7 linked regions of the Homo sapiens genome follow. The protein of the gene in region 4 purifies or fractionates together with the protein of the main gene of each other region. This does not show direct contact. Each region holds a gene or a part of one and is shown on either strand. Other genes may lie near its edges.

Evidence for each region.
Region 1: the proteins of SRSF11 (region 4) and SRRM1 purify together in Homo sapiens (affinity purification with mass spectrometry; one large-scale study listed by BioGRID and IntAct). This does not show direct contact.
Region 2: the proteins of SRSF11 (region 4) and UTP14A fractionate together in Homo sapiens (co-fractionation; one large-scale study listed by BioGRID). This does not show direct contact.
Region 3: the proteins of SRSF11 (region 4) and BRAP fractionate together in Homo sapiens (co-fractionation; one large-scale study listed by BioGRID). This does not show direct contact.
Region 5: the proteins of SRSF11 (region 4) and TCERG1 fractionate together in Homo sapiens (co-fractionation; one large-scale study listed by BioGRID). This does not show direct contact.
Region 6: the proteins of SRSF11 (region 4) and ZNF592 fractionate together in Homo sapiens (co-fractionation; one large-scale study listed by BioGRID). This does not show direct contact.
Region 7: the proteins of SRSF11 (region 4) and LUC7L2 fractionate together in Homo sapiens (co-fractionation; one large-scale study listed by BioGRID). This does not show direct contact.

What each region holds. Positions count from the first base shown.
Region 1 is NC_000001.11:24,656,343-24,660,724, forward strand, and holds part of SRRM1 (serine/arginine repetitive matrix protein 1), read left to right. Parts: intron 1-4,376; coding exon 4,377-4,382. UniProt on the Homo sapiens protein: Part of pre- and post-splicing multiprotein mRNP complexes. As a component of the minor spliceosome, involved in the splicing of U12-type introns in pre-mRNAs. Involved in numerous pre-mRNA processing events.
Region 2 is NC_000023.11:129,912,117-129,916,498, reverse strand, and holds part of UTP14A (U3 small nucleolar RNA-associated protein 14 homolog A), read right to left. Parts: intron 3,921-4,382; exon of another isoform or gene 3,808-3,920; coding exon of another isoform or gene 3,789-3,807; intron 3,190-3,788; coding exon of another isoform or gene 3,104-3,189; intron 1-3,103. UniProt on the Homo sapiens protein: May be required for ribosome biogenesis.
Region 3 is NC_000012.12:111,661,683-111,666,064, reverse strand, and holds part of BRAP (BRCA1-associated protein), read left to right. Parts: intron 1-277; coding exon 278-426; intron 427-4,382. UniProt on the Homo sapiens protein: Negatively regulates MAP kinase activation by limiting the formation of Raf/MEK complexes probably by inactivation of the KSR1 scaffold protein.
Region 4 is NC_000001.11:70,244,813-70,249,194, reverse strand, and holds part of SRSF11 (serine/arginine-rich splicing factor 11), read right to left. Parts: coding exon 4,380-4,382; intron 2,378-4,379; coding exon 2,288-2,377; intron 2,079-2,287; coding exon of another isoform or gene 2,063-2,078; exon of another isoform or gene 2,046-2,062; intron 1-2,045. UniProt on the Homo sapiens protein: May function in pre-mRNA splicing.
Region 5 is NC_000005.10:146,460,501-146,464,882, forward strand, and holds part of TCERG1 (transcription elongation regulator 1), read left to right. Parts: intron 1-1,517; exon of another isoform or gene 1,518-1,596; intron 1,597-3,050; coding exon 3,051-3,293; intron 3,294-4,382. UniProt on the Homo sapiens protein: Transcription factor that binds RNA polymerase II and inhibits the elongation of transcripts from target promoters. Regulates transcription elongation in a TATA box-dependent manner.
Region 6 is NC_000015.10:84,803,351-84,807,409, reverse strand, and holds the end of ZNF592 (zinc finger protein 592), read right to left. Parts: 3' UTR 965-4,059; downstream 1-964.
Region 7 is NC_000007.14:139,418,272-139,421,683, reverse strand, and holds part of LUC7L2 (putative RNA-binding protein Luc7-like 2), read right to left. Parts: intron 1-3,412. UniProt on the Homo sapiens protein: May bind to RNA via its Arg/Ser-rich domain.

The sequences.
Region 1 (4,382 bases), about 46 Mb from region 4:
TGTTTTCTGAATTGTGACATTTTTATTGTAGTGATAGGTTCATTAAATAAGACATGGCCACTTTTGTTGGCCCCTTAGAGAAGCAGCTAGTGAAAGTAGAGAAGCCTGTAACTGTTCCAGGTTCAGTCCTCAGTTTGAGAGAGGGGCTTCGGGATCACTGTTTTCATAACCTCATGTACCATACTGCTTTTCAGCATTGGGAAAATTTCAGTCCATTTTCAGTTACCATGTCCAAATCTGATGCCCATGGCCCTGGCCTATTTTGTCTTTTCCTGTAAAGTTTGTACTTCTGAATATTTATTCTTTGTCTGGAGCCACAAAGCTCTCCAGGGAAAAAAACAAGTGTTTTTACCTGTTACTTTGCAAAAACACATCAAGTGATGATTTTTTTCTATTTATATCATATAGCCTAAGAGTTGCAAAAGTACCTGAACAGAGGGACCAATCCTTGTTAAAATAGGTTGATTGTTAAGAATTATTAGGTACTTTTAAAAAGCATCTGCACAGATGCTAATTTCTTGTGTTTTGGCATATACTTTTTGCAAACAAGACAAGAGTGGATATGTACATAGGAAAGAAGTAAGCCATGGTGAAAATAAGTATTTCTGTGGGTTTTGGGACAGGGCTTCCGTGTTCAAACAACCTACCCAAAGAGAGGCACTACAGGCAGTGTAGTCAGTCTCCCCTGTGACCACTGGAGCTGAATATTGGTTTGACCTACTTGGAAATAACCTCTCCCCACCACCCCGCTAAATAGAGCCAGCATCTCACTCTGTCACTCGGGCTGGAGTGCAGTGGCCCAGTCATAGCTCACTGCAGCCTCCAACCCCTGGGATTACAAGTGTGAGCCACCACACCCGGCCCAGACAACCTTTTATATTAAACTGATCCCAGCCCTCTGTGATGAAATTTCAGAGCTAGAAAAGACCTTAACAGTTGTCATCAAGAAACAGATTTTCAGGTTAGTTGACTTGGTCAAGGTCAACCAACTAGGAATAAAACTTGAGTTGTCATTCCCAGTTAAATAGTGAATACTTTTCACAACTTTCCTACCCCAGAACTCTTCTTTGATTGCTAAAGGTGAGAAATGGAGGGCAGGGTTGAAATTCTTTAGCTTCTCTATCTGGTAGTATGATTTCAGAAATTACTTTGCAGTTTCTGCTGCTTAGAACAGTAACATCATTGAAATGTAATAGATATTACAGTTAATATTTTCCCTAGTGGCCACTAATCAGGGCTTTAGGGCTCTGCTCTTGATAGTGGGCAAATGGAGTGGGAGGGAGGCAGGAAAAGTGTTTTGGGGAACTTACAGGTTAATTATTTGGAATACAGTATACAGTCATCTGAAGGGATCTTAGGGGAAACATTTGTAATTACTGACATTTCATAAATTGGCATTATCTTAGTACATAAAATAGTGCTTGAAATCAGTGGCACAGTCAGCGAAGTATGTTAACATGATCAATACTGGTGGTGACGGTGTGGTAATTTTGATTTATTTAGATTAGCTTGGCCACATACATTGTGCTATCTGGACACTTAAATGGTTATTTTACTATTGTTGGTCACAGAGTAACTTATCTTTATAAGTGATCTTTTGGGCAGGTCTAAGATTAATAATTAATAGGACTGTTGGAGTAAATTTAAAATTGTGGTTTTAAAGTTGCCTTCTACGATTTCTGACTTCATGCTAGAATGATTTTGTCCCTTGAATACTTAAAACAACATTAACATAAAGTAAATGGTGTAAAGTCTCATCTAGAAAAATAGAAATCTGAAGTGCTGTTATAATATTAATAATGCTGTGATTCAATTGTATTAAACCAGAGTAGGAGTATATAAATGATAGTTGTTTGATGGTATAAATTTTTTTTTTTTTTTTTTTGGAGACGGAGTCTTGCTCTGTCGCCCAGGCTGGAGTGCAATGGTGCAGTCTTGGCTCACTGCAACCTCTGCCTCCCAGGTTCAAGCAATTCTCCTGCCTCAGCCTCACGAGTAGCTGGGATTACAGGCACATGCCACCACACCCAGCTAATACAAATGTATTAATAAAGACTACTTTAGCTGAGTAATTAGTGAGAAATTGAATCAGGATGCAACTCCAGATGTGTATTTCCACTGGGGGAGAATGGAAATAATGTTAAATTCACTTGTATTATATAATGAGTAGGCTTTTGCCAACTATCTTGTAAGCATAACCACATTTTTAATGTTTCTTAGGGGAAAATGTATCCAAACAATCAGCTTCCAAAGCAAGCTTGGGAACCCAGTTCTCTAAGGTGTGGTAACTTGGACATGCACTTTTTAACGACGTGCCCATAATATCTTTGCAGAAATTGAGGATTAAGTAACACTTAAAAATAGAGAATATGGACTTAGAAAAAGAGCCTCAAATAGTTAACAATTTTAAAATATTTTTATTTCTTTGAATTTGTTAAAATATAAGTATTAAGTATAGTTTGCTATTTGCACTGTCATGATTCCTGATATCTAATTGAGTGATAGCCATTCTTTACCCAATCCAGTGATTTGTCCAAATGGCTTATTACGTAGAAATTTTAAGAAAAGTCGCTGGGCGCGGTGGCTCACGCCTGTAATCCCAGCACTTTGGGAGGCAGAGGTGGGTGGATCACCCGAGGTTGGGAGTTCAAGACCCGCGTGACCAACATGGAGAAACCCTGTCTCTACTAAAAATACAAAATTAGCCGGGCGTGGTTGGCGCATGCCTGTAATCCCAGCTACTCAGGTGGCTGAGGCAGGAGAATCCCTTGAACCCGGGAGGCGGAGGTTGCAGTGAGCCGAGATCATGCCATTGCACTCCAGCCTAGGCAACAAGAGCGAAACTCTGTCTCAAAAAAAAAAAAAGAGAGAGAAAGGGAAAAGTCTGTTCATTGAAAAGGCATACTGGTAAATTCTTCATTTTGACTTCTTTAGCAAAGATGCGATTACTGTGTTAGATCACTGGTTCTCTAATTACTGCCCCTTGGAATAAACCATTACAGAATTCTGAATGTGAGTGTCTGTTAAATGAGATGTATCTGTATTCTGAGTCAAACATTCCATGGCAATTGCTTTAATCACACAAAACAGGTATCAGGATCCTGAGAGGATCAAATTGTCTGTAGGTTTATTTCTTATTGGGATGTTCTCAAGTGGTGTTTTAGGTTAATTTATGGTATATATATGTTTATATGTGAATATACTTATGATTTTAGTTGTAGCAATGGATAGATACTATAAGCAGAGTTAGTTGTTGAGATTAAAACCCATGGCCTAAAAATAGATTCTTGGATTCACATCTTAGCTCACTTAAATTGTCTTTGTGACTGAGGTGAAGTTGCTTCTTTTTAAGCCTCAGGTTTCCTCTCTTGTGAAATGGAACAGGGAGAAAGGGATGTGATACTACTGTGTTAATAGTGTGTCTAATACAGCAGGCTTACAAAAGGTAGTTACCATATTTCTATGTTATTGGTAAAAGACAATTGGATAATTCATAGGATACCCACTGCTCTCCTACTACTTGAGGTATAGAAATGCCTTTTTTTCTTTCTAGCTCTTTGGAAAGAATCCTCGTCTTTGTATTTAATCATTTTTACTATTTGTGGCGGTCTGCTTTTTTTCATGGGTAGTTTAAATCCCCTGTGCTATTGTGAAGATTATGCTCTACATAAAGAACCTTTAACCTGTTGGGCAGTCATTCTTCTTTTCTAGACCAAATATCTTTGTGAAAGTTTCATGAGATCTTATTTCTTAATCATTTATCATCTTTTACTTTTCTGAACCCACCTATTGTGGTTGCTTAAAAGCTTTCATGTTGATGAAGTCTCTGAAGTTGAGTGTGAGGGAGTGAGTGTGGGTGTGGAGGGTGTGTATTTTAGATTGTGGAGCTCGTGTAGCACACAGAGGTTTACTTTACTGAGCTTGTTCTACTCAGTAGCAGCTCCCAATTTCCTTTAACTGTTGGTTTTCTTGGGAGAATCTCAAGATTTGAAAATCATTGTAGAACTTTTTGAGGCTTTTCATTAAACATTTAAAAATTCTTGTCTCACTTCAGATAATGTTCAGATATGACAACAAGGTCTTACAGGAATTTTTTAAGTCTTCATAAATTCTTTTTGAGAGTAGTCACACCCATTTTTGTAATAGCAGGAAGGCATCTTGGCTGGGCACAGTGGCTTGTGCCTGTAATCCCAACACTTTGGGAGGCTCAGGCAGGAGGATTGCTTGAGGTCAGGAGTTCAAGACTAGCCTGACTAATATAGTGAGACCCCATCTTTATTTAAAAATAATAATAAATTTTTAAAAATTAAAAGAAAAGCATCTTGTATAGACCTTTTTTTGTACGTAAGCTTTTTTCCACTCTTATTCTTTTTTAGTGACAA
Region 2 (4,382 bases), on a different chromosome or scaffold from region 4:
AGGGGTCAAGAAGGAATCAAATGACTGAGGTTTCCAACCTAAGTGACTGGGGTAGGGAGTTATGCTGTTAACTGAGTTGCAGAATGAAGGGGGTGGTATAGGTTTTGGAAGTCTGGGGAAAGGAAATGCGAAGCTTACTTTGGACTGGACTAAGTTTAAGGTGCATATGGGGGACCCAGGTGATCCCTGCTAGTCACATGGAATATGAGACTGGAGCTTCAAAGAAGGGGTTGAGAGTGATAGTCGAAAGTTATGAAATTTTCACTCCTGTAATCCCAGCATTCTGGGAGGCCGAGGTGGGCGGATCACGAGGTCAGGAGATCGAGACCATCCTGGCTAACACGGTGAAACCCCGTCTCTACTAAAAAATACAAAAAATTAGCTGGGCGTGGTGGCGGGCACCTGTAGTCCCAGCTACTTGGGAGGCTGAGGCAGGAGAATGGCGTGAACCCGGGAGGTGGAGCTTGCAGTGAGCCGAGATTGCACCACTGCACTCCAGCCTGGGCGACAGAGCAAGACTCCGTCTCAAAAAAAAAAAAAAAAAAAAGTCATGGAATTTACAGAGCAAGAATAAAAAGGACTAAGGAAAGCCAGAGAGAGAAAATACCCAGAGTATATCACAGAAGCTAGAGGGGAGAGATTTTTAGAATGAAATGTGCCAATGGTGTCAAATATGCTAAAGACTAAGAGGGCTTGGGATTTGGCAATTCGGAGGCCCCTCACTAATGCCTTTTGAGAGAAGTTTCAGTAGGGCAGTAGGGGAAGAAGGTGAGAGAGAGGAGGCAGCAGTGGAGACAGACCAGCTCTTCCCCAAACACATTTCTCATCAGATAACAAGATTTGCCTCCCCTGTTAAAAGCTTAAAATTCAATTTTTTTGAAATTTTAATAAAATCAGTTTGTACACCCTAAGTTAAATTAGATCCAACAGGTGTCTTCACCATTGTTTCATAGCCTTTTTTTTTTTTTTTTTTTGAGACAGAGTCTCGCTCTGTCGCCCAGGCTGGAGTGCAGTGGCACGATCTTGGTTCACTGCAAGCTCCGCCTCCCAGGTTCATGCCATTCTCCTGCCTCAGCCTCCCAAGTAGCTGGGACTATAGGCGCCCGCCACCGTGCCCAGCTAATTTTTTATATTTTTAGTAGAGACGGGGTTTCACCGTGTTAGCCAGGATGGTCTCGATCTCCTGACCTTGTGATCCACCCACCTCAGCCTCCCAAAGTGCTGGGATTACAGGCGTGAGCCACCACGCCCGGCCCATAGCCTTTATTTTTATTTTTTATTTTTGAGACAGAGTCTCACTCTGTTGCCCAGGTTGGAGTACAGTGGCCCAACCTTGGCTTACTGCAACCTCCGCCTCCTGGGTTCAAGCGATTCTGGTGCCTCAGCCTCTTGAGTAGCTGGGATTACAGGCATAAGCCACCACGTCCAGCTAATTTTTTAATATTTTTTAGTAGAGACGATGTTTTGCCACGTTGGTCAGGCTGGTCTCAAACTCCTAACCTCAGGTGATCCACCCGCCTTAGCCTTCCAAAGTGCTGGGATTACAGGCGTGAGCCACCACATCCGTCTGGCCTGTTTCATAGACTTTAAAATGCTAAAGCATGTTGTGACTCTCCGATCTCCAGTAGGGGCATGCAGCATTTTCTAGCAATGCCTCCTCTCCTCCTCTTGTGAAGGCATAATGAGAGACTAAGGTTTCAAGGAGAATGCCTTGGGAAATACCACTGTAGACAGAGAATAGTGAGGAGAGGGGTGAAAGAAGTTACCTCACAGCATTTCTAGCACTTTGCAGTTTACAAATGCCTTCTCATGCATTATCCCACTTAATTATTTGCAGCTAAACAAAATTTTAGGGAGCTGGACCAAAACTATAGTACAGACTTTCGATTTTCTTTTCTTTTTTTTGGGGGAGGGCGGGGAAAGAGTAGAGGGTTTTTTTTTTTCCTCAGGCTGGAGTGCAGTGGCGTGATCTCGGCTCACTGTACCTTCTGCCTCCTGGATTCAAGAAATTCCCCTGCCTCAGCCTCCTCAGCAGCTGAGACTACAGGCATGTGCTACCATGCCCGGCTAATTTACATATTTTTAGTAAAGACGAGGTTTCACCATGTTGGCCAGGCTGGTCTTGAACTCCTGACCTCAGGTGATCCACCTGCCTCAGCCTCCCAAAGTGCTTGGATTATAGGCGTGAGCCACCGTGCCTGGTCTGAGACTTGATATTCAGTTTCTAGAAATCCTAATACAGCATATACTAGTTGTTGGTACTTTGCAATCTAAGTTGTAAGGAGAGACCTAGGAGTTGCTAGCCACAAAGCACCCTCTGAACTAAGCACTTCCTTATTTCTCTGTGCCCTACTAGCATAATTTCTCAAAAGTCAGTCTTAGAATGAATGAACGGCATGGTATATTCAATGTATGACATCTGAGCCTCACTCTATCTTGAAGAGGTTGTTCTATTCTTAGTGTAACCTCCTCCACTACCATCTAGTTTTTATTTTTTATTTATTTATATATATATTTTGAGACAGAGTCTCATTCTATTGCACAGGCTGGAGTGCAGTGGCACAATCTCGGCTCACTGCAACCTCCGCCTCCCAGGTTCAAGTGATCCTCCTGCCTCAGCCCCCCTAGTAGCTGGGATTACAGGCACACACCACCATGCCCCGCTAATTTTTGTATTTTTAGTAGAGATGGGGTTTCGCCATGTTGGCCAGGATGGTCTCAAACTCCTGACCTCAGGTGATCCACCTGCCTCGGCCTCCCAAAGTGCTGGGATTACAGGCGTGAGCCACCACACCCGGCCCCATCTCGTTTTTAATAACAAACTTGGCATTTTCCTGCTATCTCCAAGATTACACTGTCATTTGGAAAAAGCAAGGTGGAGGACAGTGTGTAGTAGCATGCTACCCTTCTTTTTATTTAAAAAGGAGGTAAACATGAATATAGAAATAAAACTCTAAGACAACAACAACAGCAAACTTATGCAAGTGGTTACTTCTGGGTGAGTATGGGGGTAAAAATGATCAGATGGGGCACGGGTGGAATCAAACTTTTCACTACATATCTTCTATGCTTTTTTATTTTTGAATCCTACAAATTGTATTACCTCTGATTTTTTTTTTCTAAAGTCTCCCTTCATCCTGCAGCCACACTTTAAACCTGATCTCTTTTTCATGTAGAAAAGGAAGCCTCCTAGAAAGAGAATGGTAGTGACTTCAGCAAAAACATCAGAAACAGCTTATCCCCATAATAAGCAACTACTCGCTCAATTTCTAGCTATTGTGGCAAGCAATGTTTACTTTGATTAGCTTTAATTAGCTCAACTTCCCAACGCCTAAGAAACTACCATTCTTGGGTTTTTGGAAAGTAAAGAGGAGAAGCACAAAGAGGGCATCTATTTAAGACTAATCAGCCCATTATAGACTCCATACCAATGGTGTATTGGAAAAGTAGGCTAGCTGTTCTAAAGCAGTTATTCGGACTAAAAACCGGACTTCAGGGACCAACATAGGATTTCCAACTTCTAATTTTGCCAAGAGCATAACTACCATTTCACCCCCAATCCCATCATTTACTACCACCATCATTTCATAGAAGAAAAGATATTTCAACACCATTAAAATAGAATAACCTCATAATAAAAAAGAACTGGCAACATTACACCCACCAAACAAACATACTTAGAATTATCCTTTTGCTTCAGACACAAACTTTGTTAGGGGTCAGTGTTTGGGAAACCCAGCTCTAAAACATCAACCCCTGCCCTGCAGCTCAGAGTCATAGTAAGTTACCTGCTGAAGTTCTAGTCATTGCCAGCAACACATTATATTTTAATGCGGTATTCCTGTACAAGCAAAGTTTGGCTTCTGTTGTTCACATATCCTCACTAAGGCATCATTAATGTTATCGAGTTCCTGATTTCCCTAGGATCAGAATGTGGCTTTAAATGCTTTTTAAAAACTGGGGTAAAAGAAAGAAAACATTATTATGTTCCTGCTATACGGGCAATCACATGGTTTAACACAAAAACATGGAAATAGCAAGTACTGTATACTACAAGCAGATGAAAAGTGACACAGAGACCGGGCGCATTGGCTCATGCCCGTAATCACAAAACTTTTGGGAGACTGAGGTGGGCGGATCATTTGAGGTCAGGAGTTTGAGATCAGCCTGGCCAACATGGTGAAACCCCATCTCTACTAAAAATCCAAAAAAAAAAAAATTAGCTGGGCGTGTTGGTGCACGCCAGTAATCCCAGCTACTTGGGAGGCTGAGGCAGGAGAATTGCTTGAACCCAGGAGGCAGAGGTTGCAGTGAGCTGAGATCGTGCCACTGCACTCCAGCCTGGGCGACAGAGCAAGACCCTGTCTCAAGAAAAAAAAAAA
Region 3 (4,382 bases), on a different chromosome or scaffold from region 4:
AGGATATCCTGCCAGGAGTCAAAAAAGCAACTAGAAAACTATTATTAAAAGAAGAAAGGCCTGGCACAGTGGCTCATGCCTGTAGTCCCAGCTACTGGGGAGCCTGAGGTGGGCAGATCTCTTGAGCCTGGGAGGTCAAGGCTGTAATGAGCCATGATTGCGCCACTGGGCTCCAGCGTGGGTGACAGAGAGCGAGACCCTGTCTCAGAAAAAAGAAGGAAAAATAAAGTATTGCTGGTAGATGAAGAGTGAGGCTTATGTGAGGTGTTTCCTGTAGGGCGCCAGCCTCCCAGTGATGGACCTGACTGAACTCCCCAAGTGCACGGTGTGTCTGGAGCGCATGGACGAGTCTGTGAATGGCATCCTCACAACGTTATGTAACCACAGCTTCCACAGCCAGTGTCTACAGCGCTGGGACGATACCACGTGAGTGCAGGGGCCGAACCCCTCTGTGTACAAGCCCATTGCAACCCTTCCAGAATTAAAAAGAGCCACCAGCAGAAATGAACCATTCCAAGTATTTGACTTTATTCAAGAGGTCCTTTTTCTCCTTCCCTTTCCTAAGTTCAGGGAATCGGCATTCTGAGACCAAGTCCTTTTTTAGTATGCTGATTCTGAACCCTTGTGGAATTCCCCAAAGCAGCATGAGTTGTTCTTTCCTTCCAAGAGCCAGAGAGTGAAAAAAAAAAGCAAAGCTTAGTTTGAGGCTCTCGTGCTGCAGTGAAATCTAGGTCTGGAATCTCATGTATCAGCTGCACTTGGTGTCTGCCATTCACTCTGGGCTTCTTATCAACTGGGCTACAGCAGCCTAATATTTTAGCTTTGCTGGGCTGTTGATGGCTTGGTGGCCAGTAGAAATAGCAGTTACTAAGTATGAGATCTACTCTACAGCCTCCTGATTCCCAACATACCAGGTCTTAGTCATAGGTGATGTTGCTACAGACAAAGAACAGGTAAGGCCTGTACCTTTTTTTTACCCCCTAAATCCAGGATGGTTGCTCCCTTTGCAGACTGCACTGTGGGACTTAACCAGAAAGGTGTATCAGATGCTGGCCTTCTGGATTTCCCAGTACAGAGGGGAACCCAGAAATGAAATCACACAAGTAAATAAATCACAGCCATAACCAGTGTTACAGAAGAGCAGTGTGCAGCATTGGGACTGAGAACTGGGGCCCTAATGAAGCCAGGACCACCTGAGAAGTGGCATCTCCAGGAGGGTAATTAGGAGTTAAGCCGGGTAAAGAGCAGAACCCAGAGAAGGCAGTGGGGGAAGGGGAAGATCATGTTCCCAAGCACAGAAGTGAGGAGGGGTGAAAGTCTACAGGAATCTCTGTCCACCCACAAGTGGCCTGGTGGCCGGAAGAAGAATATCAGCTTCACAGAGCGGGGGCCATGCCTGGCTTGCTCACTGCTGTGTCTCTCACACCTGGTGGGGGACGTGGCACACAGTGGTAGACACTGAGGAGCACATAAATAAACTGGGTCTCTGCAGCTTATCACTGCCCTGCTTATTTAGCTGGACAGGAGTCTTGCTCCAATTCCGTGGAGTCCTCAGTCAATTCTTAGGTATCATTTGGGAGTTTTCCAAGGAATTGTCCAGTTGCCTTGAACAAAGCCATACTGAGATATGTGCATTCCTTAAAGTGTTTACCTGTATCTTCAGTCCATCTGCTATACCAGTTAAGTTCTAGGCAATTCTTTGTTCCCCGCCACTCCAGTTTTACTTTTTTTTTGAGACAGGGTCTTGCTCTGTCACCCGTGTTGGAGTGCAGTGGTATGATCACAGCTCACTGCCTCCTCAAACTCCTGGGCTCAAGTGATCCTCTCGCCTCAGCTTCCCAAGTAGCTGGGACTACAGGTGTGCACCATCTCACCCAGCTAATTGTTTTTTTTGTTTGTTTTGTAGAGATGGGGTCTCGCTATGTTGTCTAGGCTGGTCTTGAACTCCTGAGCTGAAGCAGTGTTCCTGCCTTGGCCTCGCAAAGTGCTGGGATTGTAGGCATGAGCCACGATACCCATCCCCAGTATTCCTTTTGATATAAATTAACTGTTACAGAACCATAGCATTTTAAAGTTGGAAGTTTCCTCAGGGACCATTTTTTCCAACAACCTCATTTTATACAGGAGGAGGACACAGGCCCAAAGATAAGAATTTGCAAGCTCAAAGTGTCATGGCCAGAGAATGCCAGAACTGGGACTAGAATTCAACCTGTCATATGGGATGTAAGACATGCCATTTGCCCTCAGAATCATGCAGTTCATTTAATGAGTTTTGAGCCTTGGTACATGCATAGAACTGTGAGAGATGCTGAGACAGAGGAAGCAAATTCAGGTCCTCTTTGGGGTGGTTTGGTCTAAGAGAGTTTACACTTGGACATAAACACATGTGGTTCAGGGTGGAGATTGGAAGAGAGAATGATGGCATCCCCAACCAGGGGTACTCAGGAAGGGCTGCAGTAGGAGGCAGTGTTGGTCTTTTTGATAGAGATGTCAGAGAAGGCTTTGGGAAGAGCTCCCAAAGATCTCATCAGGAAAATAGGATAAAATAATTTTTTGCAGAGAAAGGCAGGAAGAATTTAATAAACTGTTAATTATTATTATTATTATTTTTTGAGATGGAGTCTCACTCTGTCACCCAGGCTGGAGTGCAGTAGCGTGATCTCGGCTCACTGCAACTTCCACCTCCCGGGTTCAAGCAGTCCTCGTGCCTCAGCCTCCCGAGTAGCTGGGACTACAGGCATGTACCACCACACCTGGCTAGTTTTATATTTTTAGTAGAGATGGGGTTTTGCCATGTTGGCCCAGCTGGTCTCGAACTGCTGACCTCAGGTGATCCACTCACCTCAGCCTCCCAGAGTGCTGGGATTATGGGCGTCAGCCACTGTGCCTGGCCGATAAACTGTTGATTATTTTTTAGTAGACAGATGAGGTAGTATATCATAGAATGCTAATTGTTTGTTTACAAGTTTATTCTTGTAATTTTTTTTTCTTTTCAAGATCAAATTTACATTTCAGAAAGATCGTTTTGATCATTTGGGCATAGTGTAGAGAATTAGATTTCAGAACCAGTTCTGAAATCTAATTCTGTTGTTTTTAGTTTTTTGTTTTTTTTTTTTTTTAGAAGGGCTTTTGCCACATTGGCCAGGGTAGACTTGGCTTCAAGCCATCCTCCTGCCTCGGCCTCTCAAAGTGCTGGGATTACAGATGTGAGCTACTGCACCTGGCCTGTTTTCTTATTCAACCACTTTCACAGCCACCACACAGACCGAAGGGATGAGACAAAGCCAATTTCTACTTTCTGCATTCTGCTTTCTGGCTACCATTTCTGTTCTTTCTTTGAGTTTGTCTTCTGTCTTCTCTTTTGATGCTAAAGGAAGAAGTGGACTAGATCCTTTCCTTTCTCTTACACAGATAGAGCTGTGTCATCTGTGACACAGTGTTCTTCCTGTTTATTCCATTTTCTTGGTTTTATTTACTTAGTTGGGTAACTGTTACTAGTTATAGCTTTTTTTTTTAGACGGAGTTTCGCTCTTGTTGCCCAGGCTGGAGTGCAATGGCGCAATCTCAGCTCACCACAACCTCTGCCTCCTGGGTTCAAGCGATTCTCCTGCCTCAGCCTCCCAAGTAGCTAGGATTACAGGCATGTGCTACCATGCCCTGCTAATTTTGTATTTTTAGTAGAGACAGGGTTTCTCCATATTGGTCAAGCTGGTCTTAAACTCCCGACCTTAGGTAATCCGCCCGCCTAGGTCTCCCAAAGTGCTGGGATTACAGGTGTGAGCCACCGCGCCTAGCCACTAGTTATATCTTGAGCATTGTTTCTTCCTGGTGCCAGTTCAGTCAGCCTCAGCTATAACCCACTTTCTGTCCTAGTTGCCCATCTAACAAAAATACTCATGACTAGTATTTAGTATTATTTTGTGTGGAGTATAATAGAAAACAGTTAATGGATTTTTTCAACATTGTTTTTATTGGCTTTTTGTAAATTGAGACATGAATGCCTGATAGAGCACTGGTATCTTCCACATGATGTTCACGGTGCAGTGAGATATCATGTGCATTTCAATAAGTACATTAACACCTTTGTGTTTAGCCAGGTGCGGTGGCTCATGCCTGTTATCCCAGTACTTTGGGAGGCCAGCATGGCCAATATGGTGAAACCCTATGCCCACTAAAAATACAAAAATTAGCTGGGCATGGGGGTGCATGCCTACAATCCCAGCTACTTGGGAGGCTGAGGCAGGAGAATCATTTGAACCTGGGTGGCAGAGGCTGCAGTGAGCTGAGATCGCGCCACTGCACTCTAGCCTGAGTGACAGAGCAGGACTCTGTCTCACAAAAAAAAAAAAAACCTTTTTTTTTTACTACAGATTTTAAATCCA
Region 4 (4,382 bases):
AAAGGTAGAAACCTTATACTCTAGCAAAATCGCCCTCCTGCAGTCCCCCAAAACCCTGCTTTCACCAATTACTTTGAAGATATACAGCTGATATACAGCCTTCCCCTCCTTTTTACTGTAACTTAAAAAAAAAAATTCTGTTCCTGATTCTCAAAAGTTATCAGACTTAAAAAACCCTGTACTTAGTTGTCTAATTTCCAAATGAAGCTTTTTTTCTACTTACACAGCCCTCTGTGACCCTTGTCCTGGAAACGTTACACATAACTGAGCATTCACTTATCAAACATTGTCACGACTGTGCACCTTATACTTTTTGCTACTGTCTTATGTAACTGAAACTCCAAATTCTCTAGACGGAAGAAGTATTTTATATTACATTTCCGTGTCCTTCAACAGACTGTAGCACAACTACAAACACAGTGGGTATTTAATAACTCACAGAAGATGCCTTAATTTAGAGTGATCCAATAATACAGCATGAGAAGGCACTTACAAGTACATTATATAAAGCAACAGGTAAAAAAAAAAATCCTCAACAGTTTTTAAGGTAAGAAAATATATGTAGTACCTTCCATCTTTTCTATCTCTTTGCCACCTATCCCTCAGGCCTGATTCAGCATTTCCTTCTGTACTTACATTTGGTTTCATTTTCATGCTTAAAAATTTAGTTTTTAAGAAAATTTTCACCACCCCAAAAACTCCCTACCCTTTAGTTATCACTCTAATCCTCCCTATCTCCCCAGCAATCAGTAATCTACTTGGTATCTTTATAGATTTGCCTATTCTGGGCATTTCATATAAAAGGAATCACGCAATACACGGCCTTTCATGGATGTTTGCAAGTTTCATCCATACTGTAGCATGTATCAACCTTATTTATCACTGAAAAATATTCAATTGTATAGATATACCATTCTGTTTATCCATTTGTTAATGGATAGTTAACTTTTTGGCTATTATGAAATAATGCCACAAACATTCACATAAAAGTTTTTCTGTGAAAATGTTTTCATTTTCCCCCAGGGGTACAACTGGTGGGTCAAAAACCTCTATGTTTAACATTTTTAGGAAATGCCAGACTGTTTTCTAAAACACCTGTACCAGTTTATATTCATACTAGCAATGCACAGGGTTCTAATTTCTCCACATCCTAATCAACACTTACTATCATCTGTCAGGCTCAGCTATCATCTGTCTTTTTGATTTATAACCATCCTAGTGACTGTGACATATCTCACTGTGGTCTGGTTTGTATTTCCTTGGTGACTAATGATGTTGAACAGATTTTATGTACTTACTAGATATTTGCATATCTCCTTTGGAGTAATGGCTACAGATTCTTTGCCATTTTTAAATTGGGTTGCCTGTCTATTGCTGAGTTCTAAGAGTTCTTAATAGAGAATATATAAAGAATTTTCTAACTAGCACTCTAGGTTTTTACTTTCTTGATAGTATCCTTTGAAATACAAATGTTTTAACTTTTGGTGAATTCCAAAATTTTCTTTTCTTCTGTTGCTTATGCTTTTGAAGTCATATCTAGGAAACCACCAAGCTCATGGTCTTAAAGATTCACTTTTGTTTCTTTCTAAAGGTTTTATAGTTTTGGCTCTTACATTTAGGTCTTTTATACATTTCAGTTATTTTTTTTTATATGGCATGAACCTTCTCCTAGTGAATTTAAGTAATGTTGATGAATAAAACAAGCACTGCAGCAAAACATGTGAATGAGATCTGAAAAATGGAATGAAGTCCAGCCCTTACTATCATATAAATCCCAAATTAAGTATGAAAATGTGCTTTTTGTGCAGTAAGGTCTGCAACATTTCAATTTTCACTGACAGCTTAAAGATAGAATTAGTCTAAGAATGACACAAACCAGAACCTGCATTGCTTCCCATTAATTCAACAGTCATTAAAAGGGATAGAAAAATTCTCAAGTACTAACATGCAGATGATAAATATAGCTTACTATAATAAGCTTACTTAATGGAACAATTCAGTATGGTTTAGCCATTAAAACTTAAACTATAAAGAGAAAAACTCACCTCTCTTGAATTCCATGTTACTTCAAATATACTCTAGACCATAAAATATTAAGTAAAAAGAAAAATAAACTACATTATTCTTCACAAATTGCCTTTTAAAAACTTTAAATAACAGCAAAATGTAACTTTTTTCAACACTGAAATACTTATGTTCTGGAAAAGACTTCATACTGACAGCGTACTGATACTGTTAGAAGCAAAGTTAAAAAAATAATTGCCAAGAATTCACAATGCCACCTTACCTGCTTGCACTTCTAGAACGTCTGGCTGTGCTGTAACTTTTTGGTGGTGTTTTAGAACGTTTCTTTTCTTTGTCTTCTTTCTTTTTGTCTCTAACAAATGAACACAATTTATGAATGCATTAGAAGACTCAGCTGATGCCAATTTATATAGCACTACAAACACAAAAATATAATCAGATCTAATCCCATCCTTAAAAGCATAAATGTTGTTCTGACAGAAACTGTTTTAAAAATAATACTTTATGTGGCATATTTGAAGTACAATAACTTCTTTTAAAATCCTATTATCCTAGGTTTTCTCCCAAGTAGACTAAAGTAGACTATGGGTGAGAAAATAACTAGGATGTTGGCTTGAAATATACTTGGTAAACACCAATAAGTTAACTATCTCTAGGCTCCTCAAGACTCCTTTTTCTCTCAGCTGATTACCACTTTCCCAACCCACCTCTCCTATCAGGCCAAAACCCATAGAGCACTACCAAAATCCATCAATATCATGAATATTCTTCCAAGACACACATCCCATGTCAACCTCTATCATGGATCAAGCAAGCTTCTTTTTCTGCGGCTATTATGAACTATTCAGGGCTTATTAGAAAATATCAACAGATTTTGACTACAGCCGTAACTCAATTTTTTTTTTTTACAGATTCCTATAAATTTTTACTCCTCACAATATTTTTTCCCCAAGATCATCATTCTCCCCAAGACTCTAAGCAAAGAGTAGATAAACGATATATATTTGTTGAATGAGAAGTCTCATAACAACCCCCCTCTTTAACTATTCTCTAATTTTAAGAATCAAAGTATCCCTCTCTTACTGTTCTAAGCTAATCTTTCCATTCTGCATTCTCAATTTCATTTTTTTCCCTTCTCTGGTCATCCTCGGTTCCCTCTTCATTCAATCTTTATCATTGGTTCCCTCTTCATTTGAATCTTTATCATCTAACTCCTAGATTACTAGAACAGTCCCCTAGTAGGTCCCAGTCATGCCTTCCATAAACTGATTCTGTACTCTGTCAGAAATCTTTTAAAGTACAAACCTGAAAATATTAATTCCCTGTTCACCATTTTCAACTCATTCCAGTTGCCTCCTGGATCAAGTGCATAGTGTGAACAACAAAGCCTTCCACGATCGGTCTCATTATATTTTTCTGACCTCATTTTCTAGTCCAACTACATCAAAATATTGTTATTTCAAGAAACACCATTCTCCACCTGAAAGCATGCCTCCCGTTGAGTCTAGTCAAATCTTTCAGAATTTAATACTCGAGTCATTCTCAAACCTCTTCCAATATCAGCAAGTAGCAATCATCATTTAACAGTTCCTCCCCTGTAATTAAATCCATCACTCTTCTCCTAGTAATCAGAAAGTCCTTAAAGAAATGCTTAATTCCTTTGTATAACTGTTCTATTAATCTACCTTGTTTGATTCACTCTGCAGCACATAAGGACTAAAAGCCCCATTATTACAGGTTTAACAATGATAGTAAAGCTACCCCCACTCTTCTGTTCTCATCAGTTGAGTTTTATGCTTCCCAAGAGTAAGTTATGTTGTGTCCCCAGCTGTACTTACTTTAATGACATGATTTAACTAAATATATAAATGAACAAAATAATGCCAAATATAGAGTTGCTTCTAGAAAATTAAGATAAATATTTTAGCAAGAGATAAAAAGCAGTTGCTAAAAAAATTAAGTGCTGTGAAATTGTATGCCTCACAACTATAAATGACTGGGGGCATACTAATTTAAAAGTGTTTGGTTCTACACGAAAAGACTGGTTTTTGAATATATTTTTAGATGGAAATAAAACGTTACGGTATTTCTTATGAAAGAAGGTAGCAGGACAGCTAACAATTCCTACTACTAAGAAATTTTACTTAGGCCCTCAGCTGTAAGCTGAAGTTTCAGTTTACAAGGAAGCACCAGAAAGCAAACGTCAGCCTCCTCAAACTCAAATATTGACAGTTTCTTCCCCTGTCTAGCCCTATTTCTCTGCCCCGCACCCCAACCACCTCTTTTGTTACTAAGTAGCACAGTACTAGGGGTACTGGGAACCCTAAAATTTGCTTTCTCACCCAATGCTATACCTT
Region 5 (4,382 bases), on a different chromosome or scaffold from region 4:
TATTATTTTACTACCAGGATAATTGATAAGAATAAAGAAAAAATGTGGGGTTTTTTTGTGATTACTTCAGGGACTTGGGAATTATTAGTGTGTAAGAAATACGTATAAGAGAGAAATTAATTCACATTGGCTTCAAATTTGAATTTATTTTATTGATAAAAAGCAACTGAAGCAGTCAAGTAAGGTACATATAATATGGGGATAGCCTTTAAAGATCCTCTTAATGGTTTTTAGACATTTTGTAGCGGGGGAATGTACTGAACAGGAAAATATGAATAGTGTTTTACAAATCTGTTTGCTTTTGTAGTGAAGGTGAATTTTGATATGAAAGTATAACAGTCATACTAGCTAGTCTGTTAAGGGTTGTTACCTTTTTATAGGTTTAGTGCTTCCCAAACCTCTGTGGCAAGGCAGGAGACTACCAGTTTTTATGGGAGACCTGTGGTAGTAATGGGAGAAGGGGATTAATAAAAGCAATGTAGTTTTATGTGGAGGCTCTGTGTTGCTTACATTTTCTTTCCTGCGTTCTTAGAAAGGAGAAATAGTAGTGCTTCGTTTTGTTTTAGGAAAGGTGATGAGCTAGATAATTTAACCATACTATATATAGTCCATGTCTGTTTTCAGAGTAGTGTGTCAGTAAGCTCATAGCTGTCTTGTGTCCTGTTTGTCAGTTTTGCTTTACTCTTCAGTGATTGGGAGGACTTTATTCCCAGAAATATAATATAGCAAAATCATATTCTTTTTACTGCTTTTAAACATCAATTTTGATGTTGTCTACGTATTCCAGTGTGTGTTTTTATTTTACTTGATTTAGTATCATAAAGTGTTGTCTTACTGCAATCTTAATATTTCTCCATCTATTATATATAGTCACTTGTCTTTTTTAGTTAAGATCTGAGGCTGGGTTAGTATATTTTGAGGCCTAGTGCTTCACTAGCTACTTTAGCAAATGAAGTTAGTGGGAATTTACCCACTGAAGTCTTAGATACCATTCTCCCAGTTTCCCATTATTTTATTGCTTTTGTTCTTTTCCTGTCGTGACTCATGGCTGCTAATCAAATTCAGAAAATGCTGTGCTGGAAAGTAAGAGGAATGGGTTGTAAATATTTTTTGTCATCTCCATTGGTGTTCTTTTCCACTTGAAATTTGATGCCCTTATTTATTTTCCTGACTATAGTACTTTGGATCACAATTTTAGCAATTATCTGAATACTATAATAATATTTAAATTTTAATTTTCTGAGCTACAGTATAGATCTGTGGGGTAAATGGGACTAAAAATTAAGAATATATTTTAATCCCAGTTGAGCATAAACTCATTTTGTGCAAGTTTGTGAAAAATGATGAAGAAATCCTACTTCTCAGGGAAGTTGGGAACAATGACCAGATACATTTTCAGCCAGTATAGTAGATTACAAATGCTAAATGGTATATGTATGGGACTGGGCAAATGTTGCATGTACTTTGTATTTTTCACACTGTTATAAAATTATATTAATATGATACTGTACCCTAAGGCTAGGTCTATGCTAGACCAACAATTCATTCCTGGGCCCCTGAAGATACTTGTTTGGCCCTGCTGTCTATTTAGCCAAGGTGAGTCCCTCATTAACAAGTACGAAATTGCTCACATCTTCCCAGCCTAAGTGAGTTTTTCATTATTAGAAGCTAGAAAAAGATACTGACAGATTTTGTTGTCAGTTGGATTATTGGGTGATTTGTATTAAATAGTGTGCTTTTGTTTAGAACAAAGTTGGCATAAAGATTGGGAAAGCACTGTTTTCATTTTATTTCATTTGACAAATTCATTCTTAGTCCGATACAGGTAGACATTTTTTTCTTTACATCAAAAAAAGATGAAGTATTTGTTACCAATGAATTACCAAAATGAATTTTATTTTGGAACTAGATGGGTTATGAATAAATAACAAAATTGTTTTGTAACATGTGAGAATTGAAACTGAAAAGTATGAAATAAGGATTTTAGTTTTTAGTTTGATTTTAAATGCAATTACTAGGAATGGGATGTTTTATTTTCGATATTTAAAAATAATGTGTTAGCAGAACCCAAATGATCCTGAATTTCACATTTTCCTGGTCTCTCACAATGGAAACCTCAGTTTAAAAAAATTTTATTTTTTTAAAATAATGAGAGAAACCTGAGTTGTTTTTGATTCCATTCATTCATATCCAGTTAGTCATTAGTTATTTGCTTATCTTTTTCTGTTCTTTTCTTCCTATGCATCTGTGAGGTTAATTCATCAAATGAAACCTGTTTATTACTCTTCCATACAGGAACCTTTAGTTTGCTATATACCCATTTACCTTCATGAAATCACATAAATAATGTGAATGCATTCTTATAAAAAGTTCAAAGTCTAACAAAACGTATATATTAATAGTAAAATGTGAAAGAGGCATTCACAGAGGGTAACTACCATTAATGTATTTTGTCTTGTATTCTACTAGATAATTTTCTCTATATTTACCTAAGTTCTGCCCTTTTCCTATCCATTTAAGGGCATACTCCTTAGCCTTTTGTTCAAGGCTTTCTAATTTCTGCTTCTGGCCTACCTTTCCAGCCACACAACTCACTAGTTTTGTTGGTATGCCTACTGTTTCACTCATTAATTGCTTGCCTTCAATTTTCTAAACAATTCCTTTTGGTTCTTTACTCTTTGCCTTATTCATACTTTTCTCACTGGTTTATTTTTTTCTTCTACCCCTTCCTGCTGTTTTTCTTGTTGAAATCTTAATTTTTCAAGGCGCAGCATCCCAATATAAACTTTTCTATACCCTCTCACAGTTAGAAATGTTCTTTGGGTCTTGATTTTTACTCCTATATGTTTATCCCATTTTACTTTGTATTCATTTTTGTATTTCATTTAAGTATTTTCAAGCTTCTTGAAGATAAGACCTTTTGACAAATTTCTTGCAGTGCATAGAATGGTCCCTTAAATACTTAAATTACTGAATGTGTAAATGATGAATGAATATAGTAAAATGATTTATGAAGGAGTGATACATGTTTTTGTTTTATCTTTTATCAGCACCCACAACACAAGATCAGACCCCAAGTTCTGCTGTTTCAGTTGCCACGCCTACAGTTAGTGTTTCAACTCCTGCTCCTACAGCCACACCTGTGCAAACCGTTCCCCAGCCGCACCCTCAGACGTTACCTCCTGCTGTTCCTCATTCAGTACCTCAGCCAACAACAGCAATACCTGCTTTTCCACCAGTAATGGTACCTCCGTTTCGTGTTCCCCTTCCTGGCATGCCAATTCCACTTCCAGGTAAACCAACAGATTATAATGGTCTTTCCAGCTATGTTTTCATATTGTCAGTTAGTTTGTTCTCATGTGTCTGTTGCGTTTGAAATTTGCCTTGAATCTCACCTGTTTGAAACGTTTTTGAAAGATTCATGGCTAACTGCAATATTTTCTCTTAAGTTTTGGTAAATGTCCTTTTTTTGTTGTTGTTTACATGTCCTAAAATTAGAGCCACATTTAAAGCTACACTTATTTTGGATAATGCCCTCAATGAGTTAAAAATGATTATCTTTTCATGTAAATAATGTTCTAAATGCAATATTTTTGAAGGGTTGAGTTTATGAAGTTGAGAAATCACGTCACAATAGCTAACACAAGTTGGATGATTTATATACAGTGCACTGTTGTAAGCATGTTACATGCATTAACTCCTTTAATTTTTACAACCCATGTTACGAGATAGGTACACAGACAGGTTAAATTACTTGCCCAAGGTCACATAGCTAATAAGTGATGATGTTGAGATTTGAGCCTGTGCCCTCCACATCCAGATAGTAAGCTTTTAATAACTATGTTAATACTGGGAAGAAAATGTGAGTGATTTAACTATAAAACAATTCATATAAAACAGGAACTAGAAGGTTCCCTTGTAACAATTATGAAGTAAAGCATAATGTGCATCATTTAAAAGTTTAAATTGTTATGGTGAATTAATGTGTTATATTGTCTTAAGAGAAGTCATTAAAACTAGAGAAAGAATTAAGAAATATTGTGGAGTGGAATTCTTACCATAGGGTTTAAAAATGATAGTGTTGGGCATTCCAAATTTGAATGCATTAGTTTTTGTCAAACACATTTAATCCTTGATCCATGGTTCATTCTCCTTGTGTTATAGTTGAAAGTATTGGTACCTTAGAGAGGTCAGGTTCACAGGGCTAGTTTGTAGCAAAGATGAATAGAACTTAGGCCTCTTGTCTCTCAAGTTCACATTCCATCCACTTATTGCTACTTTCTTATACTCCTTTCTGTGTAAGAATACAGTTGTGATACAGCTATTTCTTAGATTTGCACACATCTTAATTATCACTATTGCACTGGTTGTCTTTTTCTTTG
Region 6 (4,059 bases), on a different chromosome or scaffold from region 4:
TACAGAAATGAGACTGCACCCTAGGGCGTCTGATTACTATTATGACAATGAACTTCTCCATTCTATCACTCGCCAGTTTACTCAAGAAAAAAATAGGGCTAAACTCCCAAGGAAATAATTCTGCAGAAGCAAGAAGCTATATGCTCAGGACTCTTCATTGCACTGATGAAGTAGGGAATTTACATGTTAAACAGGAAATGGTCAATTGTATTGATTTGGCATGATGAACGTGATTACAATTATGGAAAATGATGATTTAGGCTGGGCATGGTGGCTCACGCCTGTAATCCCAGCATTTTGTGAGGCCCAGGCGGGCAGATCACAAGGTCAGGAGATCGAGACCATCCTGGCTAACACGGTGAAACCCCGTCTCTACTAAAAATACAAAAAAAAAAAAAGAAAGAAAATTAGCTGGGCATGGTGGCAGGCGCCTGTAGTCCCAGCTACTCAGGAGGTTGAGGCAGGAGAATGGCGTGAACCTGGGACGTGGAGCTTGCAGTGAGCCGAGATCACGCCACTGCACTCCAGCCTGGGCGACAGAGACAGACTCCGTCTCAAAAAAAAAAAAAGAAAAGAAAATGATGATTTAAAGGCTATGTAGAAACATGTACTGGACATTTTCTGCGTTAAGTGGAGAAAAGTAGAGTACAAAATCAGAGACAGTATAGTGTCAGTCACCCCTGAGTGTGAATTCCAGCTCTGCCCCTTATTAGCTCCATGGCCTTAAGGAAGTCATTCAACTACTCTGAACCTCAATTTTATTGTCTCCAAAAGAATAGTAGTAGTATGTATCTTACAGGATTGTTGTGAAGCTAAATAAAAATGAATGTGAGAATAATGTCTGCCATATAGAAATGTTCAATGTTAACCACTGCTGCTATCATAATTATACCATAAATTCAATTACAAATGTGCTGAACAAGGATTGGAAAGTGATAGGCAAAAATGAAAACAACTACAATGGTAAGAGGAAGAGATTATAAATATGTGTGCTTTTTAATTTCTCTAAAATGTTACATCATTTTCCAATAAAGAAAAAAGCATTTTAAGTAGGAACCCAAAAAAATCCCATACTTGGGACCTGCGTCCTAGTCTCAACTTTTTCCTCCAGGGGCCCAAGGCTTCCTGTGCCCAGTTCCTAAGGCTCCGGTGGCATCTGTTGGAGAAGGTGAACAGTATCCTGAACCCCTTAGTCAGGAGGACACATTCTAGAATCTAGAAGGTGCTGTCTTGGTCAGATCAGACCCTGAGAGAACAGCTGTAGCTACCAATTGAATCAGATTCATTCATTCATGCAGCATTCACTCATTCATCCATATACTTTTTGAATCACTGTTATATGCAAGGAACTTTTAAAGAATTACTCTGACCCAATGTATGAATTTGGAATAATCTCCAAAATACTATATAAGAAAGCAAGCTTCAGAACACTGTGTATAGAATTCTACTATTTGTATTAAAAATAGATATATAAATATACATATTTATAAACTTGTAAATGCATAGAATTGCTATGAAAGGATACACAACATATAGATAACAGTGATTAACTCTGGAGAGGGGACTAGAGGCTGACCTCCATGGGGAAGCTTACCATTTATTGTATACCCTTTTGTATTGTGGAATGTCTTACCATGTATATGTATTAATTTTTCAAAACAAAAAAACAAACAAACAAAAAAAGAAACTGCCTGGTGCTGAATATACAGTGGTGAACAGGACAGAGGTTCCCCAGTCTTGGGGAAGGCAAAGTGTTGAGCTTACTGGGCCACAATTATCAAATTTTTTAAAACCAGACTGTTTACATAAGTTAAGGGGAAAGTTCTTTCTACAACAATTAGCTTATAATAATTCAGCATATCATTTTACAGAGATAAAGCAGTTGGAAAATAAATACTAAGTAATTTGTCAAGTCTTAGACTGTATTAAGTTGTAGTTTCTACAAGGGAAGGGATCTTATCTGTTTAACTTGATCAGTAGAGCATTCACTGCAGCATAATGTGCAGATAAACGCTTGTTACAGCAAGCATTTTCTGATGATGACAAATGATAGCACAACCATTTAAAAAAATCTTGAAAAAGAAAAGACCAGAAGATGCTGGACTCTGAGGGAACTGTGTGTTCCCTGTGAGGGTTAGGCAACCTTTTCTAGACAGTCCTCAAAAAATGATGGTGTTCAAATGGCAAGGTAAATCCCAATGAGAATGAAAGGTTGTAGAGATACCACGTTTCGAAATGTCAACGGTGTGATGCTCGAGGCCCTCCTTGGGGTGACAAGGCACAGATGGACTCCAAAGAGAACCTGGCACTTGGCAGGGCACCCCAACTGCATGGGAAGTAGGAAAGCAAATGTCTGGGGGGCTGCAAACCACTGACAAGCTGGCAGCCTGTCAAAGCAGCCTTGGTCACTAACGAGCACAGTGGTTGACAGGCTTGACTCAGCACCATCACTACAGGTAGCCTCTGCACATCGTTTAACCTCTCGGAGCCTCGGTTTCTTCTCCGTAAAATGGAGGACAACTGTGAGATCTTTGTGAGGATTAAAGGAGAGAATCACCAGAAAGTGTTCAGTAAGATGCTAGGCACACAAGGAGGGCTTAAAATGCTATCTTCACTCTTACTAAAGAATGGCTAGGTGTCTGGGCCACTTCATAACTGCTAATCAGCATCCAAGTCCAAACAGCAGACAAAATGTGCTCCACCCTCCATGCCCTAAGGTCAAGTAAAGATTTCCCCACATTCATATAGTGTTTTATAAACTAGAAAATACTTTCACATTCATAAGCTCACAAAAGCCTGTGAAGCCAGTTGGATGGGAATTACTAACTCTATTGTGAAGGAGAGGAGACAGTGAGGTTAAGGGATTTGTTAAGAGCTGGCTAAGGACAGAATCCAGGCCAGGACCCAGGTTTTCCAGGGACTGGCTCAGCATTTTTCCAACTCACGTTCTTCCCAGGAAGGAGATGTATATCTGGGGTCACGACAGGTGGTCAAACCTGCAATTCTACCATCTCTGCCTGCTCTCCAGCTACCACTGTGTCTGAGCAGGAAGGGATCCAGCCAGTCATTTCAAACCCTTCTATCAGCCTCCTCTGGAACCCATTCCTGTGAATGGACCCAGGGTACAGGGATGGCTTCCTGTAACTAGAATTAGGCATGGGACAACAGCTACGGCAGGTCTAGGTCTGGCTTTGCAGGTAGCTGGAAACAGGCCTGGGTTGCCCCACTGCCAGCTGGGGAGGCAGGGAAGTGGCAGCCTTGCCAGGAAGAGCAATTATTAAAAGGGTGCAGACAGCGAGAGTCTCTCTGAAAGTGAGGCAACCTTTCCCACTGCCATTAGCATTTCCACTAAAAACTTGGCATTTGATAGAGGGGAAAAAATGTATTTTTTCAACTGTGAAAAGGTCAGGCATATTTATCTGACTTAATAATTTATAATTGATATTTAATGCCTCCTTGAAAGATGACCTCTAAGCACCCGGCCAGCACCCTCTTCCCTTTACTCCACTACATCCTGCTGGGCGCAACCCCATGCCACCTGGGTTAGAGGTCAGACGACACCTCCACACAGCCTGCTCCTCGTGCTTGGGTGGGCCCTGACTCCACCATCAGTGAAAAGACAGCCAGTCTCCCAAGTCTAATCCCAGTTCTGCCACATTTGAGTTCTCTGTGGCAGTAGCGATGCTGTAAGAAATAAGAAACCTCTTGAATGCTATAAGAAAATTATAAAATTCCTCTTCTCCACCCCCTTTTCCCTTTTTACCAGTAAGGGGTTCTCTTATGTTGAAAATCAACTGAAGGAAAGATGAAGGTGCCTAGAAAATTTCGATACGCCCTAAAGCCAATGTCACTAGCCTGGAGATCTTGGAGGTGACTTGACCATTGTGGAGCCGCTCCCCTCACCCCTTCAGAAGGTCTCTAGAGAACTAAGTAGTACAGGGCTCCCGGTTTCCTAACCACAAGCTCCAGAATCTAGAGAAGGCCTTCCTTAGACAGTAGGAAGTATTGTTCTCCCTCAGAGATGGGACAAACAGGGGAAGTCTGGGAAAGACCCTTGGG
Region 7 (3,412 bases), on a different chromosome or scaffold from region 4:
GCTACCGGCCAGATTTGGCCTATCGGCAACAGTTTGCCAACACCTGACTTAGATAAGAGAACTACTCAATTATTAATATGAATTTAAATAACCACTTCTAAAAATCTACTCATACTGAGTTAGCTTATTCAACCAACAAGGGGAAATAAAAAAAGACAAAGATGCTCACACTAATAAATCTTGATTAGCCATAACTGTTTACTACCTTCTCCATTCCCATACCCAACTTCATTATAAGAAAGGTAAATAATAAATCAATCGGAAAACCAAACATATTATGGAATCAGAATAAACATGGAATCTTCCATACTTCCAACATCTAAAATTCAACAAATTACATTTATTTGGTTCTTTACAGGTGACACAGCACTTTTACATAATTATCTCACTCAACCCATATTCAAAATTAGGATCTGAGGCACTACCAAGAACCTGAATAAGTAATACTTTCAGGAAAATAAAAAATATGACTGTTCAGTTTTAGAAATATAGTTAAGGAGGGTTAAACAAAAAATGGTTCTAAAATAATGTCCACTTTGAACATTCTACTTAATGTTTTAATAAACTTAAAATGATATAAAAAGACTGGGCACGGTGACTCACGCCTGTAATCCCAGCACTTTGGGAGGCCAAGGCAGGCAGATCACTTGAGGTCAGGAGTTCAAGACCAGCCTAGCCAACATAGTGAAACCCCCGTCTCTACTTAAAATACAAAAAATTAGCTGAGAGTGGTGGCGTGTGCCTGTAGTCCCAGCTACTCGGGAGGCTGAGGCAGGAGAATCACTTGAACCTGGGAGGCGGAGGCTGCAGTGAGCCCAGATCGCATTACTGCACTCCAGCCTGGGTGACAGAGCAAGACTCCATCTCAACAACAACAAAAAATCACAGTGCCAAGTCTAGTGATTCCACGTCTACACTAGTCCTATCCATAGCCTTTGTTGGAATAAAATATGAAAAGAGATGGTAAAAATGATACCTAAAAAGACACTAGATGCCAAACAGTCCCAGTGATCAGTAATAACTAAAAAACTATGAGTATCAACTACTATGTCCCACACATAGTGGTTTCCATATACTATTTTACTCAAACTACCAATAATCTTAACAAAGCAGGTATTCTTACTTTCTCCACTTAGTAGATGGGGAAAGACAGGTGAGATAGTTATAAATTACTTAGCCAAGGTGGGACGTGGTGGCTCATGCCTGTAATCCCAGCATTTTGGGAGGCCAAGGCAGGTGGATCACCTGAGGTCGGGAGTTTGAGACCAGCCCGGCCAACATGGCGTAACCCTGTCCCTACTAAAAATACAAAAATAGCCAGGTGTGGTGGCCTGGGCCTGTAATCCCAGCTACTTGGGAGGCCGAGGCAAAAGAATCGCTTGAACCCGCAAGGCAGAGGTTGCAACGAGCCGAGATCGCGCCACTGCCCTCCAGCCTGGGTGACAGAACGAGACTCTCGTCTCAAAAAAAAAAATAAATTACTTAGCCTAAACCAATGAACCCAAGTAATCTGACTTTGGAGTCTGCACTAAACATGTTTGAACAGAGCAAAAAGATAGATAGATGCAAATGGTCCTCATTTACGCAGGGCACTATTGCCAGGAAGAGGTCACAAAGAATCTACTTGTATCAGAGACAAGTATTTCACAGTAGGGAAAGGAGAACAGCAAAACATAAAAGGCTTTCAATAAGAACTTTTACCTTGAAAAATTAAACCCAAATATGTAGCAATAACTTGATGTTGTATGAAATACCAAGTAGGTTTTAACAGCAATTATCTGGTAATTTTTAGTATAAAACAAAGAATGATGCTTTAAAAGAGAATAATTTGAATTCAAAGATGAGAAAGTGCTCGAGAAAAGCAAAACTTTTAATAGTTTTACAAAAATAATCCTCTTTATGAACATGCTGACATCTTAGATATGATCATGTATCATGTATGGTGGAAAAATTCCTATACAACTTCATCAACGCAGGAAGCATCAGGGACTAAAATAACACAATCTCAGATTAGGGGACTTCACGCCCATCCTTCCCATACCCATCACCAATAAAGACATTTAGGAGTTCAGCAACAACAATGACAGTTGGGCAGATTTGACACAGGAAAATGTCTAAACCTTCCATCACCTAGCAGGATAATTCTGAAAATTCATTGTGCAGATAAGACAGGTAACTTTTAAAAAATGCTTATTTCTGAACACTGCACTGAGGGTAGACCCCCAAAATCAGTTTCAAGAGTGTGAGATAAGAGGCCTACAAATCACTCTGTCCTTTACAAACTCCCTCCTCATTCTCTGCATTTGCCTAGGATATTCACTCTATATGGAATATCTTTTTCCTAGCTGATTCTACCTGTTCAAATTTTACCGACTACCTGAAGCCATTTTTGATTACTCTGTTATTTGCCTCATCTAAACTCTCGGATCATTTATTCTATGATATGCAGTTTAGCACTTTATAACATGTGGTAGTCTTATGCCAGTCTAATTATTGTCAAAGATGTCAATCCTTTGTTCTAACTCACATAGGAGACTTTTTGTTTTTTTTTTTGTTTGTTTTTTTTTGTTTTGAGAGCTGGAGTCTCGCTCTGTCACCCAGGCTGGAGTGCAGTGGTGCGATCTTGGCTCACTGCAACCTCCACCTTTGTGTTCAAGCAATTCTCCTTCCTCAGCCTCCTGAGTAGCTGGGATTACAGGCATGTGCCACCATGCCCGGCTAATGTTTGTATTTTAGTAGAGATGGGGTTGGTTGGCCAGGCTGGTCTTGAACTCCTGATCTCAAGTGATACGCCCATCTCGGTCTCCCAAAGTGCTGGGATTATAAGCGTGAGCCATGGCACCCAGCCTCACATAGGAAACTTCTTAGAGCAACTTAAAGTTGTTCAACTATGTTATACGTCTTTCTTATGTTTTACTAAGTCTAGTACAGTAAAACATATACAATTAATTATTATTAAAATCACCTTAAGAAATACTAAAAACAAGGCCAGAATATAAGAAATAAAATATTGAGAGCCTATTAACAAACTCAGCTTGTGAGTGATTTCAGGGAATGGAAAGTTGAGTCAAAAAAAAATAGGAAAGATTTTAACAGCTTTCTGTGGATTTTATTATAGATTTTATGTGGAGTAATCCACAGAATATGTAAGACTAGTAGGTACTAGGCACTCAAAAAATGTTTATCATACATATACTTCTGAATAGTTGTCAAGAAAAAAGCAATTTTAAACATGGCTTACGTTACACAGAAATTACCTGGTTTAAGGGCCATCATGTGACCTGAGAAGTTTTGACAGTTTGATCTATACAGACTATGAATGCTAAACTCTTCTACCACATTATAATCCTTTGTCTATCCTTAATAGATATTCAAGTCCTCAAACATACCTTACCCTATGCCTGCACCTTTT